Linked DNA regions of Homo sapiens. The protein of the gene in region 1 interacts with the protein of each later gene in a pairwise test. Each region holds a gene or a part of one and is shown in the gene's direction. Other genes may lie near its edges.

The links.
Region 2: the proteins of NAE1 (region 1) and ALG8 interact in a two-hybrid assay, tested with the Homo sapiens proteins (one large-scale study listed by BioGRID and IntAct).

Annotation. Positions count from the first base shown.
Region 1 is NC_000016.10:66,802,105-66,804,736, reverse strand, and holds the end of NAE1 (NEDD8-activating enzyme E1 regulatory subunit), read left to right. Parts: intron 1-1,618; coding exon 1,619-1,728; 3' UTR 1,729-1,859; downstream 1,860-2,632. UniProt on the Homo sapiens protein: Regulatory subunit of the dimeric UBA3-NAE1 E1 enzyme. E1 activates NEDD8 by first adenylating its C-terminal glycine residue with ATP, thereafter linking this residue to the side chain of the catalytic cysteine, yielding a NEDD8-UBA3 thioester and free AMP.
Region 2 is NC_000011.10:78,101,494-78,105,325, reverse strand, and holds part of ALG8 (dolichyl pyrophosphate Glc1Man9GlcNAc2 alpha-1,3-glucosyltransferase), read left to right. Parts: intron 1-872; coding exon 873-970; intron 971-1,273; coding exon 1,274-1,346; intron 1,347-2,377; coding exon of another isoform or gene 2,378-2,436; exon of another isoform or gene 2,437-2,452; intron 2,453-3,832.

The DNA of each region.
Region 1 (2,632 bases):
CACCTACCAAAGGCCCTATCCTCATACAATTACACTGGGGGTTAGGATTTCAACATATGAATTTGAGGGGGAAACGAACCATTCAGTCCATAACACCCCTCAAAAAAAATTACTGTCCTGTGATCTCCTGTAGACTGAGCTATTAGCTTGTGGCATTTTCCTTCTAGATGTTGAATGTTTTAAAGGCAGATTTAGGTCTAATTAATATTTGAAGTGTTCAAAATGTAAATGCATCATACAGACCTAAGAAAACTATTTTCTAAGCAAATCCAAATTAAAGCCTGATTCAGAATAATTTATTTTAAACTAAAACCAAGTAGTCTCTTGTGCCAAAGTAGCAAAATTTTCTGCCAATTCACAGAAAAGGGCAAATTATTATTTATTCAGATGCAGTCCAGAATCTAAGAAGAGGTACAGCCAGATGGATGGACTGGATGACTTAACTATAGCAGAAAAAAGTATAAATTGAAGGTTTTCTTTGTTTTTTTTTTTTTGTTTTTTACTTCTGTGCATTCTGTAATCATTTTGCACAGTGCCATTATATCCCTTCACTTCCTTCAGGTTTTATTCAAATGCTGTCTTCTCTGCGATGCCATCCCTGACTCTCCTATTTAAAATACAAACCCCTTCTCTTGTATTTATATCTCCCTTATTTGCTTTTTCTCCTTAGCACCTATGGTCAGTTGACATACTACACATTCTATTTATTTGTAAATAAATTCTCTCTCTCTTGCTGCTAAAAAGTAGCATGAGGGTAAGTGGATCTTCTTGTCTTTTTTCCTTACTGTATCCCTACTGCCTAGAACAGTATTTGGTGCACAGTAGTCTCAAATTCTATCCAGTCGGCTGAGCGCGGTGGCTAATGCTTGTAAGGCCTCCGCTTTGGGAGGCTGAGGTGGGCGGATCACTTGAGGTCAGGAGTTCAAAACCATCCTGGCCAACATGGTGAAACTCCATCTCTACTAAAAATACAAAAAAATTATCCAGGTGTGGTGGCAGGCATCTGTAATCCCAGCTACTTGGGAGGCTGAGGCAAGAGAATCACTTGAACTTGGGAGGAGGAGGTTGCAGTGAGCCGAGATCACGCCACTGCACTCCAGCCTGGGTGACAGAGTGAGACTCTAGTCTAAAAAAAAAAAAAAATTCTATCCAGTCCATGAATATTTGGGAAAGAGGAATCTTCAGGTTATAGAAGATGCACAAGTTTTTTTCTTAGTAGTTTTTTTGTTTTGAGTAAATATAGCGGTCTGGCGATATTTAATATAGATCCTTCCTAAATTACAAATGCATTCAGAACAAATATACCTTTCTCCTTTTTTATTATAAAACAGATACAAGGTAAAATTCAAATGCAGCAGTAGGGTGTCCTTTGAGAATCTTTTATGCCTGTGTGTATCCTTTAAAGTTTGGTCAACCACACTACTGTTTAGATTTCCTTTAATAACAAAAAGAATTATAGGCTTTTATGTTGATATGACTCAGTAAGCTAACTGCATCTGTTTTGGGTCACTTTAAAACACCTTTGCTTTTGAAAAGGAAAAGTTTCTTTACAGAATTGAGTATGTAACTCTTGAAGTTTACTCTTTCAAAGATTTGCTTTTCTCCTTTTTCCTTTCAGGAGCTGCTGCTCAAGAGGTCATCAAAATAATCACCAAACAATTTGTAATTTTTAATAATACTTACATTTACAGTGGCATGTCACAAACTTCAGCAACTTTCCAGTTGTAGAGTAAGCAAGCACCTTAAGTAGTGTGTTAATGATTGAAACTGTAATTGCCTTCGGGTTGTGCTTTAGTCTGTAAAATTCTAAAGGAGAGCTGCTAAATTGTTTTCTTAATAAACATTTTTCTCATTTGTAATAATGTAGTCTTGTTCTTTGTGGGGAGGGGAAAGGAGACAGTCATTTTCCTAGAAAATGAATCCTATCCATTTCTCACTGAGCATCAATATTGGCTTGCTATTTCAAAGTTACTTGTCATAGATTATCCTTGTGTTTTATTAGAGATAATTAAAAATTTTTTTTCTTACCATCTTCAATAATGAATTTAAGCCATGTGCAGATGTTAGCTATGGACATTTTAGGACCATCATCATTTGTTAAAATGAATAGAATTTAAAAAGATATTTCTGGATATGTAGTTTTCCCAGAAAACAAGACCATCCCCTTGTATGTAGTATTATCTTAATTAACTTGAGTTTTGGCTGCCTAACCTACTTCTTGAAATTTTATGGGGTCATTCTACTCATATTATATATACTCTTAAATTTAATCACATGGGACTAATAGCATTCACCAGCATATTAGAGGGCAAAAAAAAAAAGGAAGTAGTAGATGCAAACAGAGTGGAAATCCAGAATCCAGAAGTGGGGGCAGTTCCCGGTTTTGGGCTTGATGTATTAATACTTAGGGCTGAGGAACGTGGTCCGTGGTGCATGACTCTTAGTAGCTAAGGCCCCTAATCTGCTGCAACTGTCTCTGAGGCCAGCGTCTCTTAAGTGAGAACCTGTTAGATTTGCTAGGGTACCTCACAGGGACTTGGTTTTCCAGACGCTAATGTGTCAGCCATTCTTTGGCTGTTCTTCACTGTATCGGGGACCTTCCCCTCGCCTTCATCGCCTAGCAGTCCCATGG
Region 2 (3,832 bases), on another chromosome or scaffold:
AATAAATGGTAATAATAGCCTCTTTCTTTATATTTTTCTTGAATCTTGAGAAATCATTTAAGCTCTGAACATATATTAAGCAAATTTGTCAGGCCAGTATGTGGCTTGTCTGGGTTTATTTAGCAGCTTGGAGTTTCCAAATTAAAAAGTAAAGCAAAAACTTTTAATGTCTTTAGTCTGAATTCACACCAAACACCAGCAGGTGAAGGGCATTGTCCAAGAGATGAGCTATAGGGTTGGAAATGAAACTCCAAGTCCTGTTTCCCTGACTGCCACCACTAGGCAGCTCCCAATCCCACAACATTCCTGTCTTTGGAGAAGGCAATTACTCAGGGAAGCAAGATTCTTTTTTTTTTTTTTTTGAGACAGAGTCTCGCTCTGTTGCCCAGGCTGGAGTGCAGTGGCGCGATCTCGGCTCACTGCATCCTCTGCCTCCCAGGTTCAAGCAATTCTCCTGCCTCAGCCTCCTGAGTAGCTGGGATTACAAGCACCCGCCACCATGCCCAGCTAATTTTTGTATTTTTAGCAGAGACAGGGTTTCACCATGTTGGCCAGGCTGCTCTTGAATTCCTGACCTCAGGTGATCCTCCCGCCTCGGCCTCCCAAAGTGCTGGGATTAAAGGCATGAGCCACTGTCCCCGGCCAGAAGCAAGATTCTTTTACGATACCCCTGATTCAGTTTGATACATGCTATTGATTGCTTAAAATTTCCTACTAAAAAATTAATATTCTCAACTAAATTGAACTTGTGCCAAAATCAGCATGTTCTTCTATGCCTCAGCCAGTTCTAATGTAATAGGAGATGCAGTTTATTTAAGCTATTTGCAAGTGTAATAACAGTTGTTGTTTTAAGAAATTATTTTTATTTTTAGCCTTTTGTCTGTGGGAAAAGCAGGAGACGCTTCGATTTTTCTGATTCTGACCACAACAGGACATTATTCCCTCTTTCCTCTGCTCTTCACTGCACCAGGTAAACAGCGTCTTCTGAGAAAAATATATTTGACTATCACAACCTTTTCATCGAGGCCCACAGATTAATACATCTAATTTAAACAACTCTAAAATCTCTTGGATAGAGATCATTCATCCTCTTAAATAAAACCTCCAATTTCCTGTAATTCTCAGCATCTCTAGATGTCACAAAAATGTAAAATTAAACTTAAAAAGTATTATTAGCACTATATAGCTGTGTCAGTGTGCTTATATTACTTTCAGCATCATAAGTCTTTCTGTCATCAGCTAAATTATCTTTTTTTTTCTATTCTTTTAACAGAACTTCCCATTAAAATCTTACTCATGTTACTATTCACCATATATAGTATTTCGTCACTGAAGACTTTATTCAGGTAATCAAAAAAATGTTTAAAATTATACTTACTCTTGTGAAATGTTTACACCTAAGTGGTCAAATAAGCTCTTTAAATTTTATTTTTAAGTTATAACAGTAATATGACAACATTACAAAAAAAATTGGTAAATAGAGGGAGAAATCACTCAATCCCATCACTCAGTCGAGACAACATAGTTTGTGTCTTTAGTTTGGGGGAGTATTTGAGGAGGACTACTTAAATTAAAATCCTATATGAAAACTCAAAAACTGAATGTAAAATATGCTTTATGAATAAAACTATTAAATACAGATAGATATGGAAAAAACTAAAAGATACTATGTACAAATTTTTTTTGTTCGTTTTTTTGAGACGGAGTTTTGCTCTTGTTGCCCAGGCTGGAGGGCAATGGCGTGATCTCGGCTCACCACACCCTCCGCCTACCGGGTTCAAGCTATTCTCCTGCCTCAGCCTCCCAAGTTACTGGGATTACAGGCATGCGCCACCATGCCCAGCTAATTTTTTTTTTTTTGGAGACGGAGTTTCACTCTTGTCGCCCAGGCTGGAGTGCAGTGGCGCGATCTCCACTCACTGCAACTTCCGCCTCCTGGGTTCAAGCGATTCTCCAGCCTCAGCCTCCTGAGTAGCTGAGATTATAGGTATGCATCACTACCACACCTGGCTAATTTTTTATATTTTTAGTAGAGGTGGGGTTTCACCATGTTGGCCAGGCTGCTCTCGAGCTCCTGACGTCAGGTGATCCACTTACCTTGGCCTCCCATAGTGCTGGAAGTACAGGCGTGAGCTGCTGTGCCCGGCTAATTTTGTATTTTTATTAGAGATGGGGTTTCTCTGTGTTGGTCAGGCTGGTCTTGAACTCCCAACCTCAGGTGATCCACCCACCTCGGCCTCCCAAAGTGCTGGGATTACAGGCGTTGAGCCACCGCACCCAACTATGTACAAATTTTACTACAGAATTATAGATGGAAACTTTTTCTCTTCTAAACTGTATGTAATGTTAACTATAATTTTTTTTTTTTTTTTTTGAGACGGAGTTTCACCCTTGTTGCCCAGGCTGGAGTGCAATGGCACGATCTCAGCTAACTGAAACCTCCGCCTCCCAGGTTCAAGCGATTCTCCTGCCTCAGCCTCCCTAGCAGCTAGGATTACAAGCATGCGCCACCACACCCAGCTGATTTTGTATTTTTAGTAGAGATGGGTTTCTCCATGTTGGTCAGGCTGGTCTCAAACTCCTGACCTCAGGTGATCCACCGTCCTTGGCCTCCCAAAGTGCTGGCATTACAGGTGTGAGCCACCATGCCCGGCCAACTGTAATTTTTTAAAGCTTGCTTATGGTTCATAACTGTGTCCATAAAAACTTATATAATTAACTATGTTAAAATGCAGTTATAGCCATGTGACCCAGCAATTCCACCCCTATACCCAAAAGAATGGAAACAGGGACTCAACAGATACTTGTACATCAGTATTCATTGTAGCATTATTCATACTAGCTAAAAGATGGAAACAACCCAATGTCCATCAACAAATACATGATAAAGTGTGATATATACATATAGTGGATTATTCAGCCAAAGAAAAGAATGAAGTTCCAATACATGCTACATGAATGAATCTTGAAAACATGCTAAGTGAAAGAAACGAGAGAATAGAACAAATATCATATCGTTCCACTGATAGGAAATTCTAGAATAAACAAACATAGAGACAGAAAGTAGATTAGAGGTTGAGGGAACAGGGGGATGGGAAGTTATTGTTAATGGTTCCAGAGTTTCTGTTTGGGGTCACGAAAATATTTTGAAGGTGGATAGTGGCGATGGGCGCATATTATTGATCTACTTAATACCATCAAACTGTATACTTAAAAATGGTTAAACAAATAGCAAATTTCATGTTATATATATTTTACCAAAATAAAAAATATTTTAAAAATCTGGTGAAACCTTGTCTCTATAGAAAATACAAAAATTAGCTGGGCATGGTGGCAGGCGCCTGTAATCCCAGCTACTTGGGAGGCTGAGGCAAGAGAATCGCTTGAACCCAGGAGGTGGAGGTTGCAGTAAGCTGAGATTGCACCACTGCACTCCAGTCTGGGTGACAGAGCAACGCTCCATCTCAAAAAGAAAATTTTTTTTAAATCTTCAATTCTATATTGTTTCTCATGTTCTTATTCCAATGTCACAGCACCCAACCCCTTTACCTCTTTCAAATGCAGAACTAATTCTCTCTGAGCAGCTTGAGCTAAATAACAGCATAGGTCAATGGTGGAGTAAATTTAGATTGTTGAGATAATATAACGTATATAATTATCATTTTTTTCTAAATGTGAAACTTATTTTTTATTTTTATTTATTTTTTGAGACAGAGTCTCACTCTGTCGCCCAGGCTAGAGTGCAGTGGTGCCATATCGACTCACTGCAACCCAGTTAAAGCAGTTCTCCTGCCTCAGCCTCCCAAGTAGCTGGAATTACAGGCCTGTGCCA